Regions from separate parts of the Homo sapiens genome. Here regions 1 and 3 are each linked to region 2. A link means that fine-mapping ties the variant in region 2 to the plasma level of a protein whose gene starts in the linked region. Region 2 holds a variant in brackets. A gene starts in each other region. All regions are shown on their reverse strands. Region 1 holds the start of MYL3 (myosin light chain 3). Region 2 overlaps CACNG1 (calcium voltage-gated channel auxiliary subunit gamma 1). Region 3 holds the start of MYBPC1 (myosin binding protein C1).

The links. A credible set is the group of variants that fine-mapping cannot tell apart. PIP is the posterior inclusion probability: the model's chance that the variant is causal. The UK Biobank Pharma Proteomics Project read protein levels with antibody pairs (Olink). The fine-mapping took linkage between variants from a reference panel, not from the people measured, so its PIPs are less certain.
Region 1: MYL3 starts here. The variant in region 2 is the best candidate, but not a certain one, in a credible set for the plasma level of the MYL3 protein (UK Biobank, PIP 0.73).
Region 3: MYBPC1 starts here. The variant in region 2 is the best candidate, but not a certain one, in a credible set for the plasma level of the MYBPC1 protein (UK Biobank, PIP 0.60).

What each region holds. Positions count from the first base shown.
Region 1 is chr3:46,859,415-46,867,593 of GRCh38, reverse strand. MYL3 (myosin light chain 3) reads left to right here and starts at 4,150. Exons shown (of 7, transcript NM_000258.3): 1 at 4,150-4,332; 2 at 6,607-6,634; 3 at 6,769-6,918; 4 at 7,946-8,119. The coding sequence starts at 4,204. RefSeq lists an enhancer at 6,798-7,298.
Region 2 is chr17:67,054,502-67,062,668 of GRCh38, reverse strand. It overlaps CACNG1 (calcium voltage-gated channel auxiliary subunit gamma 1), which reads right to left. Exons shown (of 4, transcript NM_000727.4): 3 at 7,429-7,566; 4 at 5,872-6,624. The coding sequence ends at 6,398. Among named protein-coding and RNA genes, the nearest start is that of CACNG1, 14 kb to the right of the region's middle. The variant C/T (reference allele first, on the strand shown) is at 6,481.
Region 3 is chr12:101,590,651-101,598,829 of GRCh38, reverse strand. It overlaps MYBPC1 (myosin binding protein C1), which reads right to left and starts at 3,859. Exons shown (of 32, transcript NM_002465.4): 1 at 3,735-3,859. The coding sequence starts at 3,759. It overlaps LOC105369938 (a long non-coding RNA gene), which reads left to right. Exons shown (of 5, transcript XR_001749279.2): 5 at 1-276.

The DNA of each region.
Region 1 (8,179 bases), not on the chromosome of region 2:
CCCTGTTTCCCTGCCTCTGGCTCTTAGGCCCAGGGGACAGCTGGCCCTTACCTCCTTCTGCCCACCCTCCACGTGGCAACCATAGTCTGAGCTCCCCAAATTGGCTCTGACAGGATGATGGACATTCTTCATGCCCTTCTGAACGCTACCAGGGAGGTCTGCCAAGCAGCTACCCCCGCTGTTGCCAAGAGTGTGACCCCCCGGTGCCCCTTCCCACTGGCCTTGTCCACACAGGGCCACGCTGATCTGGAAATCCGTCAGCCCTTGTCCTGGGTCCTGGGTCTGGGGTTTGGGTTTGCAGTCCTGGAAGTCTGGGTTTAGAGTCCTGGGGCTTGAGTCCTGGATCTGGGGTCTGGGTTTAGAATCCTGGTTCCTGTGTCTGGGGTCTGGGGTCCGGAGTCTGGGTTGAAGGTCCGGGTTTACCATCCTGGGTCTTGGAGTCTTTGGTCAGGGTTTGGGTGCCAGGATCTGGGTCTAGGTCTCCACAGTGGGGTCTAGTCCTGGAATCTGGGTTCTGGGTTCTGAGTTTGGCACTCAAATTGTGAGACCTGAGTCTGGGGTCTGAGCTTGGGGTTCCGGTTTCCTGATCTGGGGTCTGGGTTGGGATTCTGGGTTCTGGGGTTTGAGTTCAGGAACCAAAGGTCGGTTCCCATCCCTTCTGCGCCCCCTGCTGGCTGATCGTGGTCCAGTCACTGCCTGTACCACAGGGGTCACCCTCACCTCTTTAGTCTGTGAAGAGCACGCCTGAATTGGGGTGGGCATGGGGAAGTGGTGGGTGGGCTTGGAGGCAGCTGCTGGCCGCACTACTGTCCCAGAGTGCCCTCTGCACCGCCAGAGCTCCTGTCAGTCAGTTGGCAAATCTCCCCATCTCTCCGGGCCCACTCCAGGACAGGGTTTAGCAAGGGGTTCCAGTACCTCTGTGAGAGGTGGGTAAACTGAGATATTTGGAACATTTGTTCATCCAGCATTTATTGAATGCCTGTGGTGTACCAGGTCCTGGGAAAATGTAGCTGTGGAAGAGCAGAACATTCCTCCCTCCTGTGATGGCTGACATTCATAGGAAGGCGGACACACGGAAGACGCCAGGTAACAAGAGCCCAGAAGAAGGCCGGCGTGGCCGGGCTTTCCTGCCTTAGTCCACAGGCTCCTCAGAAGTCAGGGCCCATATCTTCCCCGCATTCTCCTTGGCTGGGGGAAGGGAGAGGTAAGTGGCTGCCTGAGAGGGCTCTGGGACATGGCGTGTGCCAGCCTGCAGCACACTGGGCTGCAGCTCAGACATCAGAGCTTTGGGAGCTGAAGCAGTAGGACCCAGACCCCCAGCCCTGGCTCTCCAGGCCCCCGAGGCCCTGCCCAGATCCTGCCTGCTAGGCTGACTCCTGAAGGGCACAAAGCTCAGGTTGGGATGTGGGAGAGAGAGGGAAGTGCCAGGCATGGTGTGGCCTGTTCTTACCGCCAACTGCTGCCCACCCTCCCTCCCTCCACCCCCAACTCCCTGCCCACCTTCCTGCCTCCTGTTCACCCCATGCCTTGCTCCTGGTCTCGGTGTGCCTGGGAGGGCTCTGGCTGGTCCTGAAGAGTGCCTACTGGGGGCTAGGCAGTTGTTATAGGTTTGAGGGTGGGCCTGTGGGTGAGTCCTGGGGCACTGTTGTTCCCAAGCCAGCAGGGACATGCCCAGAATCAGAGCTCAGGCAGTCACCATCCTGGCCCTAGCCTTCATCTGGGTCCTGATGAGGGAGTGAGGATGGCTCTGTGCACCCTGTCCCTGCTGCAGGACCACGTTTGCCCTGTGTGTGACAGGAGGGGCCCAAGCCACTGCCTTGACTCTGCCACACACAGGTGGAGGAAGGTGGCACTATGTGGCTCTGGCTGGCTGCATGAGCCTGCCCATCCCAGATCACAGACCTGGACACTGAGGCCCAGGATGCTCTTGTCACTGGCTTACCCCCATTTGGGCCAACGTTGGGTGGTTTCCAAGGGGTGGTAATTGTGTGAGGATGAAAGAAATGAGATGGGAGAGAGGGCCCTGTATATGTCCTCTGCTCTGGCCCTCTGCTTCCCTCATGATGAACACAAGGAAATTGGTCTTGTTGGCGGTGTCTGTGGGTGGCTGGGGCTCCCGTGTGACTTCCAGAGCCCGTTGTCCTGAGGGTCGGCAGGCCTGGGTGGTGGGGCCTCCCCGGGGCCCCTCTGTGTGGCCCTCTGGCTGTCTTCTCCTCTTGTGGTATTTCTGGCTCGTCTCCACTGACCATCCCCCCACCCCTTTCTTTCTCAATACTGTTGCCAAACATTTGGAAGAAAAGTGAAAAACTTGCCCCCCCGCCAGTCCCGGATGTTGTCAGATTTCCAGATGTGGGTGTTCTGCCCTCCAGATGAGAGGCAGAACGTGTTCCAGTCAGGAGCGGGCTGGCCCCAGCCCTGGACTGCTGTCCCTCCCTGTGAGGCGGAGTGACAGGATGAGAGGGACTGGGCCCAGTAGGAAGACAGCAGGGCGTGCCAGGTAGAGGCCCTGGGCCCCACAGCACCTCTCAGCCTCAGGCTTAGCCCCTTGCCACACCAGGGAAATCCCTGGCTTTGAAGTTTCTATCAAAGGCTCCAGGCACTTAAAAGTAACCAGGAGCACCTCCTTCCCACCCCCCAGGCACAGATGCTGGGCAAGGAACAGAGCCCAATGTGTTTACAAGATGTCCCCACTGTTGGCGTCCCCATGCGGGAAGAGCCTTGTGCCACCTCAGCCCTCCCACCTCCCCAAGTGGCAGTCCCGTCAGGCTGTACTCTGTCACTGTCATCTGCTGAAGGCTGGGCTTGGGATGGACCCTGGGGGCCGGGCACTGCAGGATGGGCACTGGGGGTGGGCACTGAGTGGTAGGAACAGGGAATGAGCATCACTGCACTGGGGCAGACCCTGCTTGGCAGCTTGGGGTTCCTCAGAGAGGCAGACCCTCTCAGAGCCCCTGCCAAAAGGGTCGGCAGAGGGCAACATGTGGCAGTGGAATAGCATTGGAGAGAGCTTTCTGGAAGAGGGCCAGTAGAGCCAAGCCTTGAATATGTCAGGCAGAGGGGGCGAGGGCACTCTGGGCAGAGGGTGCAGTGGGGAGCCAGGCCTGGGGTGTGTAGGGAAATGTGCATCCCTGGGGCCTGTAGAGAGGGGAAGTAGGAATCTAGGGGTGAAAGCTGAGAAACTGGTCCCTGGGCCAGCAGGGGCTGAAGAGGGAGGCTGCTGAACTGGCCTGGGGCGACTGCCCTAGAGGGAGCAGCATCCTTTCTCTTGCCCTTTGTGGGGGTTCCTGGAGACCCTTGGACCCATAGCCAGGGCTACAGCTGCCTGCCATGACCAGACACTCACATACAGACACATGTAAACACCCAGACATAAACACACAGAAGCAACACCCGCAGACACACTCACATAGACACATAGACACACCACGCACACATAAAGACCCAGACCCACAGAGACAAATGCAGACACCCGGGCCATCCCTTACATAGACACAGATACGGAGCACACATAGGCACGCACAGAGCCCCCCACCACGGAGGCACCCAGACAATACACACAGGTGTACACAGACCCCCCTCCACACAAACACAGACACAGAGAGACCCACAGACACATAGACACCCCGACACAGACACAGACAACACACACAGACACATGCTGACTTCCGCCTTCCCCCACATGGACACGGTCATAGACACAGACACAGACACAGGGGACTTTGGAGAGCTTAAGTTCAGAGGTGCCCTTAGATCATCCCAGTCCTTCTGGCCCCAACACAACACGTAGCATGTACTTGGTCCACCCTTCTTCACCTCTTCAACTTACGGACCTGCAGAGAGGCAGCAGGGCCCTGTGTGGGTATGTGCGGGTGTGCAGATGAGTGTGTGTGTATGTGTGTATGTGTGTGTTAAGCAGTGGCCTTTGTCCCCCTCTCTCCCTCCCCCTTCCCAACAGGTGATTGGGAGGAATGGAGATCCCTCCTCCACTACCCATTCCTGAGCCTGAACAATGCCCTCCCCAGGCCCCAAAATAGCCCCTAAGCCTAGCCATATCCTTTTATGGCCCTGTCCCTATTGTGCACTGCAGGGGTGGGGCTGGGGTCATGAGGTATCCGGGCAGGATAAAGGCCTGGGTGAGGCGGCTCACCTACCCTGCTTTCTGCATTCTTCTCTCCACATCCCTCTCTGTACTTACAGCCCCCAATGGCCCCCAAAAAGCCAGAGCCCAAGAAGGATGATGCCAAGGCAGCCCCCAAGGCAGCTCCAGCTCCCGCACCTCCCCCTGAGCCTGAGCGCCCTAAGGAGGTCGAGTTTGATGCTTCCAAGATCAAGGTGGGTATGGAAGCTGGGTGGTGGCAATAGGAGCAGGGCAAGTGAGTGGATCCCAGAGTGGACCTAGCAAGAGGCAGGTCAGGCTCTGGAGGTGAGCACTGAGCTGACGCTGGAAGCTTCTGTGCAGAGGTCAGACAAGCCCTGACTGCTTCAGGCATCAGAAGGGCTGCAGCAGGAGGGATGGTGGTCAGACGTTCTGCAGGACTCCTCTGGTGCTGCTGAGAACTAAGGTGGAGTCTAGACTGGGGTTTGAGTCTGGACTGTCTTTTTAGTGGTTTTGGAAATGGACTCTCCCTTGCCCTTCTTCCTGGACTTCTCATCCTTGGGGAATCCTGGAGTCAGCTGGAGCCAGGCAGGGATTTTCCTTGTTCAGCTGAGGGGTCCCAAGTCCATACACGCTCCCAGCGTGGATGAGATAGGGAGTAAGAAGAAGCAGGGCCCCTGTCCAGGCTGGGTCTCGTTCAAATCACCGAGCCCAGAGCTGGTAGAGCACTTCCAGGCCTCAGCTTTTAGGTAGGGAACTTGAAGCATCAGCTGGCTGGGGACATTCTGAAAGCTGTGCAGGAAGCTGGTCATGGAGCTATGACCAGTGGCCCCAGGAGCCCTTCCCCAACTGCAAAGTCTTTCTCAGAGTCTAAACTTGGAGGGAGCCATGACTCCCACCTGTGGTATCTGCATAGCAGCACGTACCCTGTGTCCTGCCTGCTCCCTGTTCTTGGCTGGGACCACTGCTGCCCTGGCTGCCTCCTCAGGAGCCCTGTGGAACCCTCGCCATCCCTGCATGCCCAGCAGGACCTACATTCCATCGGTGAAGTCTTGCCTCCTGTTCATGAGCCCTTCCCAGAGACACCTACCATGTCCTTTGAGGCAAGGGTTCAAATCCCAACTCTGCTCCATTTTAGTTGCCAAGTTCTTCGCTGCTCTGAGGCGTGGTTTCCTCAGCTGTGAAACAGAACAGCAAGTCCCCTCTTGCAGGGCTGCTGGGAACCATTCAGAGTATATGCACCTGGAGTTGGCCACCCAGGTCCCAGGCTTGCATTCTGCAGGCCTCATGGTGAGGCTGTGACCACAGCCACGGCCCATAGTGGCATTGTCCTTTCTCGCCAGGCCTTAGGTTGGCACAGACTTCCTTCTGAGAGGTGGGGACAATGAGACCCCTCATGCGCCCTCTTCCCCCATCCCCAGGTTGCAGGTAAAGGGCAGGGAGCCTTTGCCAGGAGCCCAGAGACCCTAATCTCAGTAGGCTTCCTGGTGGAGAGAGCTCTCAGGGAGCCAGGAATGACAACCTGTTCTTCCCAACACTGGGTCAAGCCAGAAGCCAGGAGGGACAGTCATGGTAGGGTGGCCCTGAACAGGGTGTCCCTCTGTGCCGGCATGCACTGTGGAGATTGGTGGGGCTCCGTGGCAGCAGCCATGAGAGAGACGCCAGTCATGCCCCTCCCCCAACCTCCTTTCCCTTGTGTGACCTTGACCTTGGGGCGAGTGACTGCAGTGATAAAAATAGACCTGGTATCCGGTGAGGAGGGGGACACTGGATCCCGGGAGGCCTCTTGATTGACGTCAATCAAGGTGGCCCCAATGTGACTTCAGCAAACACTCAGCAGCACTGCCCTGGCCCTGTGCTGTCCTGGGGTGTGGGAGCTTCCCAGGGACCTACGGACAGGGTGTGTGAGAAATAGGTATAGTGGGGCTGGTGAGTGACTGCCTGGTCTTTAGGGCTTAGGGGGCTCTGTGAGGGCAGACGTATGTAGACACATGCTCACACACAAACATGCACACTTGTGCTCACCCTCGATGCTTCCAGCCACCAGCCCTCGGCCTGTACCATTGCCCTTACTCCTTCTACCACCCTGGGCCCTCCCATCTCACTTTTGCTGACAGTCCTGCCCACCAGGCCCCAAGCAAAGCCAGCCTGACTGGGGCTTGTGGCTTAAGGTACATCTGTCCAGAACCGGGAGCATCAGGTAAGGCCCACGCTGGCCTGAGGCCTTGGGCATGTGGCCTCCCTCCTCACTGCTACCCCTGCCAGGGTCCACCGAGCATCAGGGCCTCGGTGCACACAGCCTCAAGGCCTTCTGGCTGGAGAGGTGGAGGGGGGCAAGGAGGCAGGAGGGCGTCAAGATGGACTGCAGGAGGTCCTGGGGGTGCAGGCTGGGATGCTGGAATGGGACAGGCTGAGACAGTTGACATTCTGGGCTGGCCACCGAGTGCCCAGGAGGAGGTGTGGCCCCACCTTTTAAGCCGGGCATCTGAGTCTTTGGGGTCTCTTTTCAGATTGAGTTCACACCTGAGCAGATTGAAGGTGAGCAGGGGTCTTGAACCCAGGGGTTGCAGGATTGGGCTGGGGTTCCCTGGTCTGAGGGTCCTGCCAGGGGTGTGGGGAGTGGGGTAGGCTGACCCTGGGAGTGTCTGTGGCTCACTGCCCTCTCCTGGCAGAGTTCAAGGAAGCCTTCATGCTGTTCGACCGCACACCCAAGTGTGAGATGAAGATCACCTACGGGCAGTGTGGGGATGTCCTGCGGGCGCTGGGCCAGAACCCCACACAGGCAGAAGTGCTCCGTGTCCTGGGGAAGCCAAGACAGGAAGGTAGTGCACCTGCCCGAGAGCCCCCATAGTGTTAGTACCGGGGAGACTGGCTGGGTGGGCTGCCATCCATCCTGCGGGATAGCACGAGAATCTTTCCTGACATCTCGCATTGTCCCGATGAGGGCACCGAGGCCAGTCACAGGGCCATGCCGACCAGGTGACATGCAGTAATGGTTTGCTGGAGCATCTGGATCCATGCTGATTTGCCAGGCCCCCTGGTGGTAGGCGCTGACACCTATGGAGAAGTGAGAAGGTCGGGCAGTGACAGCAGTGGGCAGTGGGATGCTGTCATCCCAATGCTTTGGGAGGATCACTTGAGGCCAGGAGTGAGACCAGCCTGGGTAACATAGTGAGATTCTATCTCTACAAAAATTAAAAATTTAGCTTGGCATGGTGACATGCACCTATGGTCCCAGCTACTCAGGAAGCTGAGCCAGGAGGATCCCGTGAGCCCAGGAATTTGAGGTTGCAGTGAGCTATAATCACACCACTGTACTCCAGTCTGTGTGACGTAACAAGAAGACCTCGTGTCTAAAAATAAATAAATGAATGAATAAATACATAAATGAATAAAATTTTAAAGCTAAAAAAAAAAAAAGGAGTGAGGCCCAAGCCCCCACCAAGGGTTCAAAAGTCCCAGGGAAGGTCTCTGATTGGCCTAGCTGCTCCTGACCCAATCACAGGTGGTGGAGGGTGAGGTCTATAAGAAAATGCCACGAGGGGAGGACTGTTTCCCAAAAGTAGGCAAGGGGTTCTGGACAGAGCCCTCCGTGGTGGCTCAGGGCAGCAAACTCCCTTTGTGAATAGCAAAGGGCTATGGAAACAGTGCATTGCTCAGTAGACTGTAAAGTGCCTCGCGATGGTAGTTTGCTTTTAAATGGCAAACTGGTGTAGACTGCTGTGAGAACTGGTGTAGACTGTTGTAGAACTGTGTGAGAGGTGGGGATAGCTCCTCATTATCAGGCATGGGGGAGGGGTGTGCCCACCCCAGCCTTAGACCCTGGAACCTGGGACCATTTCTCTGCAGAGCTCAATACCAAGATGATGGACTTTGAAACTTTCCTGCCTATGCTCCAGCACATTTCCAAGAACAAGGACACAGGCACCTATGAGGACTTCGTGGAGGGGCTGCGGGTCTTCGACAAGGAGGGCAATGGCACTGTCATGGGTGCTGAGCTTCGCCACGTGCTGGCCACGCTGGGTGAGGGCAGCCTCCTCCCCTACCCCAACTCCTTCCAGGGACATCCTGGGAGAAACCACT
Region 2 (8,167 bases):
AACACACCGGGTCTGATACCTGAATGAGAGATTGGCAGGGGCTTATGATGGTCACAGGTAACCGATGTCCTGGAGATGAATGGGATTTCCTAGAAATTGTGATGTGAGATGAGACCTGGCAGAAAACACCAAAGTTTAAAGGGCAGGTGGTAGAAGCACAAACATTGGACAACGGAAATATTCGGGGGAAAATTTGGAGAATTTTTTGAAGGAAGCAGAGGTCAAAAGTACAAGGCTGGGCACGGTGGCTCACACCTATAATCCCAGCACTTTGGGAGGCCGAGGTGGATCACTTGAGGTCAGGAGTTCCAGACCAGCCTGGCTAACATAGTGAAACCCCGTCTCTACAAAAAGTACAAAAACTAGCCGGGTGTGGTGGTGCGTGCCTGTAGTCACAGCTACTTGGGAGGCTGAGGCAGAATTGCTTGAGCCCAGGAGGCGGAGATTGCAATGAGCCGAGATTGCGCCATTGCACTCCAGCCTGGGCGACAGAACAAGACTCTGTCTCTAATAATAATAATAATAATAATAATAATAATAATAATAATGTAGCAGTAAGGTAGGGCTAGCTGTGTATGAAAGTCATATCCCCTAAATGACGAAAATTTCCAAAAAGTCCAGGCTTTCACATTTAGGCAAAAATTCTTGTCAGAAGCAAAGCCAAAAGAATAGAAAGTATCGCTGCTTGTAATGGCAATGACCTTAATTAACTTTCTCCAATGTGCAGGATCAATGCCTTGTGTGGGGATTAATTTATGGCCTCAGTGGTTGCAATTGAGTGAGACTGAGAAATGAAGGCTTGGGGAAGCCAGGGGCAGCTGCATCCCAGCCTGAATACCAATCATTGGTTTAATAGATATGTTCCACATCATAGGTTTATTAATACCTTGTCTCCACTTCTAATCATTTCTGAAAGTGGGCAGGGTATAAATTAGAAATGGATTTGTAAATAAAATATTTGGTCAAAATGGAACAAGTCACACTGGCAGGGGAAATATTGCGATAGGCTGTGATTAAAATCCGTCTTTACCGGCACAGCCAGAAAAAAAAAATAGAGGTACACAGAGATCCTTGAAATTTTCAGTTTAAGGAGGAACTAAGCACCAAGCCACTGGAGCAGGTCCTACCGTGTGCTGGCCAGAGAGAGAGGGAGCCATCTCTTGGTTCTCCCAGGAACCTGGGCAGAGGCCAAGTGAGGATTGGTAAGGGCCCTCATCAGACAGGTGGGAAAACAGCAGCCTTGGTTCTAATTTAGGTTGGTGCAAACATAATTGCAGTTTTTGCCATTACTTTTTTTTTTTTTTTTTGAGATGGAGTCTTGCTCCATCACCCAGGCTGGAGTGCAGTGGCAGGATCTTGGCCCACTGCAACCTCCGCCTCACAGGTTCCAGCGAGTCTCCTGCCTCAGCCTCTGAAGTAGTTGGGATTACAGGTGCCCACCACCTCGCCTGGCTGTTTTTTTTTTTTTTTTTGTATTTTTAGTAGAGACAGGATTTCACCATGTTGGCCAGGCTGGTCTTGAACTCCAGACCGCAAGTGATCCACCCGCCTCTGCCTCCCAAAGTGCTGGGATTACAGGCATGAGCCACCACATCTGCCCAGTTTTTGCCATTCCTCTCAATGGCAAAAACTGCAATTACGTTTGCACCTACTTAATAGTTTTGATATGGTGTTAATTGTGGAGATTTTGCATTAATTTTAATTTTTTAAAAATGTCCCAGTCAGTGCATCCAAAACAACCAAAAGCAGGGCCTGAAGCAGAGCATGAACCCGTGTTGATAGCAGCAGTAAATCACAAGAGCCAAGAGTTGGAAACAACCCAGCGTCCATCAGTGGATGAGTGGATAAACAAAATATGGGAATACGTAGAGTGGGATATTGCTGAGCCTGAAAAAGGAAGGGAGTTCTGATACCTGGTACCGTGCAAATGAACCTTAAAGGCATTAGCAGTCGAGGGAAATGAGCCCGTCACAAAAGGACCAATACTCCATGATTCCGCTGATCCCGAGGTACCTAGAGGAGTCAAACTCCCAGAGACAGAAAGTGGAAGAGTGGCTGTGGGAAGGAGAGGACGCAGAGTTAGTGCTTGTGAGTTTCAGTTTGGGATGACGAAGAGTTCTGGAGATGCACGGTGTTCAGAGTTGCACAACAATGCGAGTGTATTTAACGTGATTGAACTCTACACGAAAATGTGATTAAGATGGTAATTTTACGTTATGTGTATTTTACCACAGTTCTTAAAAAATCACACTTAAGTCTGGATCTTGATGAACTAGTTGCTGGTCCTGCCTCTGCTGCCTTCTTTGCCTCACGGAAGATGATGGATGTAAAAACGCTGAGAAAGCCTGGGCAACATGGCGAAACCCTGTCTCTAAAAAAAAATTGCAGAAATTAGCCGGGTGTGGTGGCACGTGCCTGTGGTCCCAGCCACTCGGGAGGCTGAGACAGGAGGATCGCTTGAGCCCAGGAGGTCAAGGCTGCAGTGAGCTGAAGTCGCACCACTGCACTCCAGCCTGGGCAGCAAGTAAGACTCTGTCTCAATAATAATAATAATAAAATTAATAAAAAAACAAAAAACGCTGAGAAATTGCAAGTGTGACAGGACATCAAGGTGTGCTGTGGGTCAAAGTCACATAGTTCCAGGAGGCGAGGTGGTCGGATCACCCGAGGTCAGGAGTTCGAGACCAGCCTGGCCAACATGGCGAAACCCCGTCTCTACTAAAAGTACAAAAATTAGCCAGGTGTGGTGGTGGGCGCCTGTAGTCCCAGCTACTCAGGAGGCTGAGGCAGAAGAATCGCTTGAATCTGGGAGGCGGAGGTTGCAGTGAGCTGAGATCATGCCACTGCACTCCAGCCTGGGCAACAGAGCAAGACTCTGTCTCAAAAAAAAAAAACAAAAAAACACACAGTTCCCACAGCAAGGAATGAGAAGCCAGTAGCTTCTGAGGCCAACCAAGGCTTCAGGGCAGATGGCACTGTTTGTTCTGTGGTTGGGCTCTGGGTGGCCTTCAGAGCAGGGCCTGCATGGACCCTGAAGTGAGGCCTTCAGTCCCTGGCAAAGCCAACCATTTTCCCCTGTGGACATCCTTCTGGCAAGCAGCATTTGGCGGGTGGGGAGTAAGACGTTTTCCCTCATTGGTTTGGTCAACTTTATTTTGCTTTGCTGCGTTGCCTCTTTCTGGGGCAGATGCCAGGATGTGTGGCTCTCTGGCGGCCAGCCTCCAACCCTTTGGTTTGTATCGCAGTTCTGGCTGTGCTGAAGTATATCTTGGAAGAGTTAAAAGCCTGGGAAGCCGAATGTATTCTGTTTGGTGGATATTCCATTCAGATGTGTTTTGGGGGGACCGACCCATAGGCATCCATGGGGAAGTAGAAAATGCATGCCAAGGCCCCGGGCATGGTGGCTCACGCCTGTAATCCCAGCACTCTGGGAGGCTGAGGCAGGTGGATCACCTGAGGTCAGGAGTTCGAGACCATCCTGGCCAACATGGTGAAACCCCGTCTCTACCAAAAATAAATTAGCTGGGTGTGGTGGCCGGCACTTGTAATCCCAGCTACTCGGGAGGCTAAGGCAGGAGCATTGCTTGAACCCGGGAGGCGGAGGTTGCAGTGAGCTGAGATCACACCACTGCACTCCAGCCTGGGTGACAGAGCAAGACACCATCTAAAGAAAAAAAAAAAAAAAGAAAAAAGAAAAGAAAAGAAAAAATGCATGCCAGTCTGATTCTGCTAAAAGTAAAAATAGTAATAAAAGAATAATATTGGAGCCAGGCATGGTGGCTCACACCTGTAATCCCAGCTACTCCAGAGACTGAGGCAGGAGGACATCTGGAGCCCAGAAGTTTGAGGCCAGCCTGGGCAGCATAGCAAGACTCCGATCTGTTAAAAAAAAAAAAAAAAAAAGGCTGGGTGTGGTGGCTCATGCCCGTAATCCCAGCAATTTGGGAGGCCAAGGCTAGCGGATCGCTTGAGCCCAGGAGTTAGAGACCAGCCTGGGCAACATATCAAAACCCTGTCTCAACAAAAAACAAAAAAAAATTAGCTGGGTGTGGTCTGCGCACGCTTGCAGTCCCTACTACTTGGGAGGCTGAGGTAGGAGGATCACTTGAGCCCAGGAACTCGAGGCTATAGTGAGCTGTGATTGTGCCACTGTACTCCAGCCTGGGCACTGTACTCCAACGTGAGACCCTGTCTCAAAAAAGAAAAAAAGAAAAACACCAATAATATCAACCTCCAAAATGGTTATCAATGGGATGAAGTTATCGCTCTTCCTTCTTACTCATAAATCATGGCCCCAGCTCCCTGGCTGGCCAGGACAGTCATCTTCTGATTCTCCTTTACCTGGAGCAAGTTTGTTTCCTGGCTGGATCTTTGCGTCTTTGAGTGAGTCTCCTCTGACACCCCTCCTAGCCCAGCCCACACCCCCGAGATACCGCAGGCGAACTGAAATAATGAACTTCCCCTCAGCTTTTAGATGGGACCAGTAAGAGGTTGATATGGGGGCTGATGGTTGTAGTTTTCCTCCAGAACAGGCGTAATCACACATTTTTCATACAGGGTCAGATAGTAAATATTTTCAGCATTGCGGGATGGAAGATCTCTGTTGAAACTACTCAATGGTGACGAAAGCAGCCATAGAATGGGCGTGGCTTGGTGTTAATCTAACTTTATTTACAGACATTGAGATGTGAATTTCTTATCATTTTCATGTGTCATGAGATATTCTTCTTCTTTTTATCTGTAAATTATTTTATTTTTATTTTTTATAGAGATGGAGTCTTGCTGTGTTGCCCAGGGTGGTCTCAAACTCCTGGCCTCAAACAATCTTCTTGCCTCAGCCTTCCAAATTACTGAAATTACAGGTGTGAGCCGTGATGCCCAGTTCCTTGATTGTTTTGGGGGTTTTTTTGTTTTGTTTTGTTTTTTGAGATGGAGTCTCACTCTGTCGCCCAGGCTGGAGTGCAATGGCGTGATCTCGGCTCATTGCAACCTCTGCCTCCCGGGTTCAAGCAGTTCTCCTGCCTCAGCCTGCCGAGTAGCTGGGATTACAGGCACATGCCACCATGCCCGGCTAATTTTTTGTGTTTTTAATAGAGATGGGGTTTCATCATCTTGCCCAGGCTAGTCTTGAACTCCTGACCTTGTGATCCACCTATGTTGGCCTCCCAAAGTGTTGGGATTACAGGCGTGAGCCACCACGCTTGGCCTTTTTTAAAAAAAAAAAATTTTATTTATTTTTTTAACAATTTAAAACTGTAAAAACTACCTTTTGCTTGTGGGCCATACAGCAAGAGGGGGCAGGCCAGGTGTGGCCTATGGGCCATAGTTTGCCAAACCCTGCCCTAGAAGCGTGAACTCCAGTGGGTTCTCCGGGGTGCAAGGCAAGGATCCCATCTGCCGATCATGTCTGAACTCCACTTTGGAAGCCTGGGCAAGTACTGCGGGGTTTTGGAAGGCAGAAGAGTGCAAATCATGGCTCTCCATGTGGCCCTAAGTGTCTAACTGCTAAGCCCTGCTTCCTGATGTTCTTCACAAGAAAAATCCAACATCAGAAATCAGACACTGGCTGGCTGCTTTAGCGCTGTGTTGGCACCAGGTGCGTTGCATGCCAGGCTCTAGAAATAACCCCTCCTATTTTTAACACCCTTGCTTCATCAGAGGGTTTCTAGTTTCTCCCGAAAACAATCTCAGGGCCTAGAGATACGAGTTGGAATTCAGAGCCTCTAAGCCACGTGCGTTGCCCTCTTGTCCCCACAAAAGACCTCAACATACCCGGGTGACCGGCCTTTCCTTCTCATTCGGCGTCAGGGGAGCCCCTGATGTGACTGGGAATCCGAGCGATTTCTATGCAAGGCTCCAGGAAAGCATGAGTTTTCTGAGAGCTTTTTATTTCAAGCCACAGTCAGATTCTACCCAGTTAAAAATGCTTCCCAGGGCTCCTGGAAGCCAAGGAGGGGACGCTGGGCTCACCAGAGAGGGTGTGTTTTATCACCGAGAAAGAGACAGGCTGGCTATTTACACGGAACACCCAGCTGGCAAACACAGGTTGTCCCTGCAATGTTCATAAAGGACAACTGGAGGCAGCTTATCAGAGGCTGGTACAGTGGGGACACCTCTGAGCTCCAGGGGAAGTTGGGCCCCTGCAAACACCTGTCCACCTGCTGGCTCTGCCTCCCCCAACTGTGGCCAGGTTAGGACTCACGTCTTGCTCTATTCCCAGGGGAGCCTGCGGCAGCCCAGAGGAACTCAGAGAGAGGAAGCAGCCTGCGACTGTTGCAGGGGGGCAGATGGGAGCAGGGTGGGGCTAAAATTGCTCCCGCCTCCTCTCTGGAAGGTTCCAGGCCAAGACCCCGCTTCCTGGGGAAGAAGCCTGAGGGTCGCTAGGGCCGCAGGAGGGTTAGTGCTCGGGCTCAGCATCCATGCAGGACTCCCATGGGTTCCGGGGCATTCGAGGCAGGGAGAACAGCAGGAGGGCGAGAC[C/T]GCCGAGAAAGAGGAGGATGAAGGCGGCACAGGCGCAGGCAAAGGACCAGGAGTAATAGTACTCGATCCAGACGGTGTCCTCACTGTCAATCATGCGCTTCACCGACTGCCGCATGACCTCCACCGAGACGAGGATGCAGAGACCTGGGGGCAGAGCCAGGCATGCTCAGGGACCGAGGGGCGTCTGCCGTAGCCACCAGCCCCATCCCAGCCTGTGTGCATGGAGGAGGCGGTGACCTTGCCTTGGGGGAAAAGCTGCCTCAAGGCAGGTTCTAGATGGGAACCTGCAGAAGGATCCATTTGTCCACCCACCACCCTATTCCTGCATCCCTCAGAAGGGCAACCATGTGGCCAGGTGTGGTGGCTCACACCTGTAATCCCAGCACTTTGGGAGGCTGAGGCAGGAGGATCGCTTGAGGCCAGGAGTTTGAGACCAGCCTGGCAACATAGTGATGAGCCCTCCGTCTCTACAAAAAATTAAAATACAATGAAAAATTAGCCAGGTGTGGTGGTGCACGTCTGTAGTCCCAGCTACTAGGAGGCTGGGGCGGGAGGAACCCTTGAACCCAGGAGTTCGAGGCTGCAGTGAGCTGTGATTGTGCCACTGCACTCCAGCCTGGATGACAGAGCGAGACCCTCTTCCTCATCCCCCAAGAAAAAGAAAGAAAGGTGACCACGTTTCTTTCCTTCTTTTGTTAATCATTCTCTGGGCAGTTTCTTTGGGGCCTTGAGGGTTGAGTCGTGGAGAGGAATGGACAAACCGCCAAGCTCTGTCTCCCTCCAACCCACCTGGAGTCGCTGATGGCCTGGCCAGGTTTGCCCCTGGATGGGGATGGAGCCTGGGAAATGCCCCTCACCCAAATCTCGCGGTGGGCATGAGGGTGGAGCGGAGAATCCCCCGCGACATGGTCCCCCGGCCCCGGCGCTCAGGCAGATCCCCCAGTCTACCTGCAAAGGCATAGAACATGGACGCGGGTCGCAGCAGATAGTCCCTCTTCTTCCCGAGGGACAGGAGGACACAGAGGCTGCCCAGGATGATGAAGCCAAGGCTGAAGATGGCGATGGCGGCTGCCGAGATGCTGTACTCTGCAAACACAAGGGACACCCAGCATGCGGCCTCAGCATGGGAGCTCTTGTCATGGCTCGTTAGGGACCACACCATGCACCACAGTGTGTGTGTCAGTGTCTGTGTGTGTCATTGTGTGTGTGTCAAGTGTGTGTCTCTGTGTCTGTCTTGTGTGTGTCATTGTATGTGTGTATCTGTGTGTGTGTCAGTGTCTGTGTGTGTCATTGTGTGTCATGCATATGTGTCAGTGTGTGTCTCTGTGTCTGTCATTGTACGTGTGTGTCAGTGTGTGTCTCTGTGTCTGTGTCATTGTACGTGTGTGTCAGTGTGTGTCTGTGTGTGTCACTGTGTGTCATTTTGTGTGTCATCATGCATGTGTATCAGTGTGTGTCTGTGTCACTGTGTGTCATTTTGTGTGTCATCATGCGTGTGTGTCAGTGTCTCTGTGCGTCTGTGTCTTGTGTGTGTCGTGTGTGTGTATCTGTGTTGTGTGTGTCTGTGTGTGTCAGTGTGTGTCTGTGTGTCTGCCCACTCACCCTGTGTGCAGCTGTCTGGGCGCAGGCAGGCACGGGTCTGTACTCCCGACAATGGGTGTGCGTCTGAGCTCTGCGGATCCTGAAA
Region 3 (8,179 bases), not on the chromosome of region 2:
CAAGTGGATCTCTTGAGCCCAGGAGTTCGAGAACAGCCTGGGCAATATTGTGAGGCCCCCATCTCTACTAAAAATAACAAAATCAGCTATTAGCTGGGCATGATGGCATGCATCTGTGGTCCTAGCTACCGGGGAGGCTGAGGTGGGAGGATTGCTTGAGCCTGGGAGGCAGAGTTTGCAGTGAGCCATGATTGCACCACTGCATTCCAGCCTGGGTGACAGAATGAGACCTTTTCTCAAAAAGATAAAAAATAAATAAAAAATTAAAGGAATCCAGTTAACAGTTGTCGCAGGATGTTAAAGAATCAGGCTTTATGGTTTTAATCATTACATATTCCAGAGGTAAAATTCTGAGGAAATCATTTTTATGGGTTTAACAGCCATTCATACTATTCTTTAATGAACAGAGATTCTGCCACGGAAGAAAGGCTATTGCAATTGTCTAGTTTGAGGTTGATAAAATTTCTTTTTGACTGGAAAAGAGAAATTTCCAGTGAAAGGTGATTTCTTGGCCGGGCACAGTGGCTCATGCCTGTAATCCCAGCACTCTGGGAGGCAGAGGCAGGTGGACCACCTGAGGTCAGCGGTTCGAGACCAGCCTGGCCAACATGGCGAAACCTCGTCTCTACTAAAAATACAAAAATTAGCTGGGCGTGTTGGTGGGCACCTGTAATCCCAGCTACTTGAGATACTGAGGCACAAGAATCACTTGAACCTGGGAGGCAAAGGCTGCAGTGAGCGGAGACTGTGGCACTGCACTCCAGCCTGGGCCACAGAGTGAGATACTGTCTTAAAAAAAAAAAAAAAAAAAAAGAAAGGTGATTTCTTTACACAGTAGGAACCGGGGGCAATTAACTTTCGGGCACTTACTTGTACTCAATTAATAATTGATATATAAATGAATGTATCAAAGGCATCCTGGGAGATCCCCACAAATCTGAAACTGCCTACAACATCCTCCCAATTTGATCGGAATAACTTAATTGTACTAGGCCTTAGGTTCTGTAAGAATCCAAAGTGGTGTAAGGTAAGTTTTATCTGGAATAGACAGTACAAATAACATAGTTCTCCAAAGAATACATAATATACAATTGATGATGGTAGAAAGTAGAACAATGGGAAGTGGTTACTCCTTAAGAATAATACTTGCTTTCTCCAAAAGGGCTCACTGAGCCACCCAGCATATTCCAAGAGTCTAAACAAGGACCGTTGACTAATTACTTCCATTAGACTTCCTCTTCGAGATCCAAAGTTACATCTGTCCTTCCTCCTTCTCCTTAGAAGAACCAGCTCTCCCAAGATCTAAGAAGAAAACTCCCAGAATTAGGCCACGGTAGGCTGGGAAGTAGTTGAGTGAGACATTTTTTGTACCTTCAGGTGCTGAAAACTCAGCCTCTTTTGAGGAGTTGCCAGATCCTCCTGGATCCTAGGAGGGCCAAACCAGCTCATGTGTCCTATTAAGATTCACAGCAAGTGGTCATGGCCTTCCTGGGCATGGCTTTACGAGCTGTGGGGAAGAGTTCAGAAGACCCATATGGGCTGGAGGAGCCTGTTCTTTGGGAGGGTTTCTGCAGGTATTTTGAAATGATTCTGAAGAACTGGCTCTAGGCCATGTTTTATTTTTCAGAGGGAGGCTTATATGCAATCAAACTAACCCCAGTGAAAATGAAATCACAGTTAGGAGAAGAAGAAAGGACCAGAATAGTTCATGAATTGCCGTACTCCTTACTCTTCTAATGTAAACAATATTAAAATGCAATTATTTCACTAAGGAAAGCTTTTCAAGGTACAGTTCCTTTAAGAATCAGTTCTGCTGGTAAGGGAACCAAAAAAATCTCTGTACTTCCTCAATGGATTTTAAATATATCAGTAACTCTTCTTGCCCCAATCCCCATCATCCAAATTTACACTAACCAAAGAATTTATGGGTATAAAATTACTGTCCTGGGTGGAGGAACTCCTACACAGAATAGCAACATGCTTTTATAGCAAAAGAAGATGATGGAGTCTTTAGCATCCATGCTGTTTTATTCAGAAAGAAAAAAATATATATTGGGGGGGTGGGGGCTGAAGTTAAAGATATATTTTCCTCTTTGCAGCTCTATAATTTCATTCCCCATAAAAGAGTGAATCAGACTGAGTTGTCAAATGAAAAGTAAACTTCATCGCCTTTGCGATCAGAATAATTTAATTAGCTTTATTGGCTCTTACAGGCTGTCACCTTATTTATTGGTTTTTCAGCTTTCTTCTCATTTTCAATTAGGCTTTAAAAAAACAAATGCAAAATCATTCACTAAATTCAGAATAATTAAAACAATATTGTGTTTCCAGTTTGGAAACATGGTAGAATGTATTGCTTCTGGGTACACTTCGGAGAGGTTAAAGTGACAGAGCAGATAAAAAGGACACTTAGTACACACGTAAATCATTTGCATTACAAATAAGATACTTTAGCAGGGGTTGGACTCCCTGCCTGACAGTCAGGATTAAGTTCCCATATTAATACATGCATTTGGTGTGGTTATTTTGGGTGAAAGACTTCATCCATCAATGCCCTCTGCCACTAAGTAAGGCCAACCTGTAAACTGATCACCACAGCCTGTCAACACTGGTTACTTAATTATATAAAGAAAATATGTTTAAAAGACTTTTGATAATTTGGTTAGTATTTCAACATCTTTTTCAAGGTTCCTTAAAATAATAGCTAAAGCATTTTTAAGAATTAAAAACTGAAAACTATGACTATTTTTATGTTTCCTGCTAATCTTTCTTTTTCTTTTATTTGCAGAAGGGAAAAATAAAGATTCAGTAAGCATTAATGAAGATGAATATAAATGAAATAATATTTTTAAAAGATATTTTAATTAAAAATTAAATTCAATGCATGCATAGTATTAATTTGTGCTTATTATTATTTATTTTCATAACTACTAATTCCAATTTACTTCTGTTACCAATTGGTAGCTTTAATACACTAATTTTTTTATAGAAAGGAGAAACTTTGTTAGGGAAAACATTTCTTCTAAGGAAGAATATTTTTATACTTTCAGCTTAACTATTCTTAAAGCCTACTACATATTATGAAATTCTCTACAATAAAACTCATGAAAGAACAATCTATTCATGATATTCAGGGACATCCTTTTTTATCAGGTGTTTGGTTTTCTTTCCATGCAAGAATTTAATAACGAACCTCCAAAGGCACTGATAAGAACAAAAAAAACCCTTCGTCTGTATATTTTAAATATGTTTCCATTAAAAAAAGTAGCAAATATGGAAATAATGTCACAAATTCTTTTTTGAAATCTTGATCCAATGTATTAACCATTTGAGAAAATATTTTAAGTCTCCTACTCTCTGCAAATTGCAAATACATGGTAAAAAATTTGTGATTAAATCTAAGAAAATATGCTTGAAAACGTAATCTGTTTACCATCAGCAATTAACATCCTTAAATTACACTTTAAGGATTCTTTACAATTGAATGATAGAATTATCATTTGATAATTTTAGTCAATATCCCTTTAGAAACTATCGTTATCAGAAATTTTTCAATTCAATATACTCTCGCTGTATTTTTCCTCTGGTCTGTTTAATCTAAAAGATCGTTTCCTTAAATCATAGTGATTTTATTTTCTCATCTAGTTAAGATATTTGTTATTTGTTTGAAGATAAATACCAAAATAAACACTTTATTCAGGAGTACAACAAAAAGATTTCTAGATAAGTCTTACCCTCTTTCTTAGTGGGTTCTGGCATGGCCACAATAAGATGTTATTCTTTAAAGAGTCTCCTTCCCTCCACGACTAGTTGACAGAAACCCCACAGGCAGGCGAGAGATGGTGCAGGTCGGTGTGACAAGCAGTTGGGGAGAAACCCAGTGCTTTTATACTGCCTCTGAACATCAATCATGATGGCACCTCCCTTTCTTCAGCACAAGGATGCAGGAACTTGACAGCTATGGGGACCTTTCTCACATCTGTTGTCTGCACTCTGCTCTCTCGCCTACTGGAAGGAATCTCCTGCCCATCTCATGTGGCTGATGAGAACACCTCTAACTTTCTAAATTCAGCTGCAGCCTCGTGCTCCGTCTTGCTCTTCTCTCTCTGACAGATGCATGTGCTGACTCAGGAGTGCAAAAAGTTTGCTGGATGATTAAAAAAACAAATTAAAAATCATAATATGCCAATCCAACCTATACCTTAATTTTCACTAAGATTAGGCAGAAAAGTCTTTGTATTCAGATGATCACTTTTATGCTCCAATTAGCTTTTCATTTTCATCAGTCCTTAATTATTGCATTTATATTTTTTCTTATTCCTCATTGATATGTCAATATTAATTTTTCAAGCCAAATCTCTAGGTTAAATAACTTGTCTCATGTTCTTCTCTAAGAATAGCAAAGATTTCTATTAGGGGATACTCTGCGTTTGCATTTTTTTCCAAAAACATCATTTTTCAAAATTATAGGACATATAAAAGAATGAGGCAATGACACATGCTACAACGTGGATGAAGCTTGAGAACATTACACTAAGTGAAAGAAGTCAGTCAGACATACAAACGTAGACTATAAAATAATAGATCACTGCTGGGCTCATGCCTGCAATCCCAGCACTTTGGGAGGCTGAGGGGGGTGGATCTCCTGAGGTCAGGAGTTCGAGACCAGCCTGAACAACATAAAGAAACCCCGTCTCTACTAAAAATACAAAATTAGCTGGGCATGGTGGTGCATGCCTGTAATCCCAGCTACTCGGGAGGCTGAGACAGGAGAATCACTTGAACCCAGGAGGCGGAGGTTGTGGTGAGCCGAGATTGTACCATTGCACTCCAGCCTATGCAACAAGAGCGAAACTCCATCTCAAATTAATAATAATAATAATAAAAAATAATAGAACACACATTGTACAATTCCACTTATATGAAATATCTAGGACAGGCAAATCCATATGGTGAGAAAGTATATCAGTGTTTGCCAGTGGCCTAAGGGAGGTGGAATTGGGAGTGACTGCCAGTGCATATGGGGTTTCTTTTGGTCATGATGAAAATGTTCTGGCATTAGATAGTGGTGATGGTTGTACAACTTTGTGAATATATTAAAAACCACTGGATTATACACTTAAAAATATATATGGAGGCTGGGTGCAGTGCTGGGGCCTATAATCCCAGCATTTTGGGAGGCCAAGGTGGGAAGATCACTTGAAGCCAGGAGTTGGAGACCAGCCTGGGTAACAAACCAAGACCCTGTCTCTACAAAAAATAAAAATAAAATAAAAAGATATATATGGGGCCTGGGCAAAGAAAGTCAAATAGACTAGTAGCTATTGTTTTGATTCAAGTGATTCAATTGGAGGGTACACAAATCTAACTTAAGATGTTGAAAGACTGTAGTAGATGTGGTCACTTTCTCCCAAAACGCTCATGGAACTGATAGAGAAATAGGAACTACCAAGTAGTCAACCTGAAGAAGACACCTTACTTTCTTTGTTCACATGCACTAGGACTAACCTGAGTTTATATGAAAAGACAACTACACACATGCCTTTATTGGTGTGTGTTTTCAAGATAATTTTCAAAAACTTTGATTGATTGGTACTGAAGCAGCCACACTGTCTCGTCTAATTTCCCTTGTGGCTGAGAGTGCAGCTGGTCAGACTTAGCTCTACCAAACTCTGTGCCAAGCTGACTTTTCATATAAGGGTGGAAACTAGACTTAGAACTCAATAGCATCATGCTTTAGTTATGTGGCGGGGAGGGGGAGGAAGCCAGTCAAGATGGTAATGAACATCTTTTATAAAGACAGCCCCTCCTTAACCACATTATACTACTGAACACATTTTTGTACTTTAAAAAAAAAAAACGTTCCTTTGCTGAGTCCGCTCTGGGGATATCAATTAATAGATGAAACATATGAAAGAACCTAGAATCTGAAGTTGGTCCCTTGGGTTCTATTTCTGGATCTATCATTAACCAGCTTAGTTACTCTGAGAAAGTCAGGGGGCTTTCTGGGCCTCAGTTTCTTTTTGTGTAAAATGAGGGGCTTAAAAAAAATGATCTTGGAGGCTGCTGATAGGTTTAACACTGTGATTCTACTTGGGAAATCTCTAAGAGAGAATTGTTTTTTTCAGCATTCCCAGCACACTGAACACCACATATGAAATGGACATAGGGCAGAGTGTCATGTTGCATAAGAATGTTTACAGCGAAGGGCAGATTTCACACATGCCACAAAAGAGGTGCCATGCCATCATTGGCTTCTGCAGAAACCCCATTGGGTTTTTAATACACTGATCGTCTTACTGAAGTGAACATATGCCAGGAAATATTGCAATCCACAGAGAAAGTATTTTATGACCTGGGGAACTTTTTGGTAATAAAGGAATTAATTATAAAAAGGCAAAGCATTATTATAGGAATTGGAAGTATGGACAAATTCTAGGACAAATTATTGTACAGTGTATCAGGTGGTTAAGGTAAAATTTTAAATTAGGATAACAAGTAGACTTGTGTAATTTTCCTAGGGCTATATTGTTTTAGGAATACATAACTCCTATTTCAGATCTTATGCATTCATCTAGAAGGTTGCAGATGCCTTAGCTGTACTCTCAGGAAAGACAGGGGGATGGTCAACAGGCTTTTGTTTCTTTTGCTAAATGCTGTATTAGATTTTTCCTTTTGTATTATTGAGGATGAAGTTTGTTCAAATACAACACAAAACTACAAAATACCAACAGTTGAATCAAGATAGAAGTATTTCTCCCTCATATAAAGCAAGTCTAAAAGCAAATGGCTTAGAGTCATACAGTGGCTTCACAGTGTATCCAGGAAACCAGACTCCTCCTTCTTGCTCTACCATCCTCCTGGTAACCTCATGGTCCAAAATAGCTGTGTATCTTCTAGACACTACATTCCTATTCCAGGCAGCTGAAAAGAAGAAGAAGAAGAAGAAGAAGAAGAAGAAGAAGAAGAAGAAGAAGAAGAAGAAGGAGAAGGAGAAGGAGAAGGAGAAGGAGAAGGAGAAGGAGAAGGAGAAGGAGAAGGAGAAGGAGAAGGAGAAGAGGAAGAGGAAGAAGTCACTTTCTTCATTTTAAAGAGACTTGTTTGAAGTCCCACACACATCTACTACATCCCACAGGCCAGAACTTGGTTACATGGCTATATCTGACTACAAAAGGAGCTGGGAAATGTAGTCTTATTCTCAGGTAAAATTGGAATTCTGTTATTAAAGAGACCAAGGAGAATGGATGTCAGATAGGCAAGTATCAATCTCTCACCTTTCAAAATAAAAGCAATAGTGTTCTCCGCGTTAACCAAAGAATATGGAGAAGTATAAATAGTAAATAAGCAATCTCAAGAATTTCACTCTCTCCCCAACCTCATCCTCATTCCAGTGTGTGAATTAGGGTCTAATTTTCCTTTGTGCTCATACATACGTGTATAAATGTATATATTCATATGTAGAGAGTTCTTCATCTATTTTTTAATGAATGGGATTATACTATTTACATTATTTTCCACTTTCTTTTTCCATGTAACCTCCTCTCACAGACATTCATTCATGTTAATATACATAGACCTAACTCAATCTTTTTTAATAGCTAAATAATTGTTCATGGTATGGATGTGCTGTAGTATGCCATATTTTCTCAATCACATACCTTTTGATGGGCATTCAGGTTGTTTTCAGTGTTTGACCACCATAACTAATACTGCAATCAGCATCATGGTAAAATAACAGAAACTGGTGGTGGTATGTCTCTCTGGTAAGTTGGAGGCACATGGCGGGTGTGGATGGGTGGGGAATAAACAACTTTAAACCTCTAATTCACACAATAAAGAAGAGCAAATTATAGAAGAAATAAAGTTTTAAGTTAAAAAATTAAACAATAAAAATATTTGAAGAACAATTATGACAGTGTTTGAATAATACTCTCATAAGTGGAGACACGTGTTAAAGTAAGAAAATCTAGAAGCTATAGAGAAGGTAACAGATTTGAGTAAATAAAATATTAAAATTCTTTATCTCTAGCAAAGACACCATAAAATCAAAAAGTAAAAAAGGAAAGGAGAAAAAGTTATTTTAAACCCATCATAGAGTTAATATTATTAATTTAAAAGTAGAGTAGAAGATTTCAAAAAGCAATTTACAGAAGAAATAGAAACCATGAATACATACGAT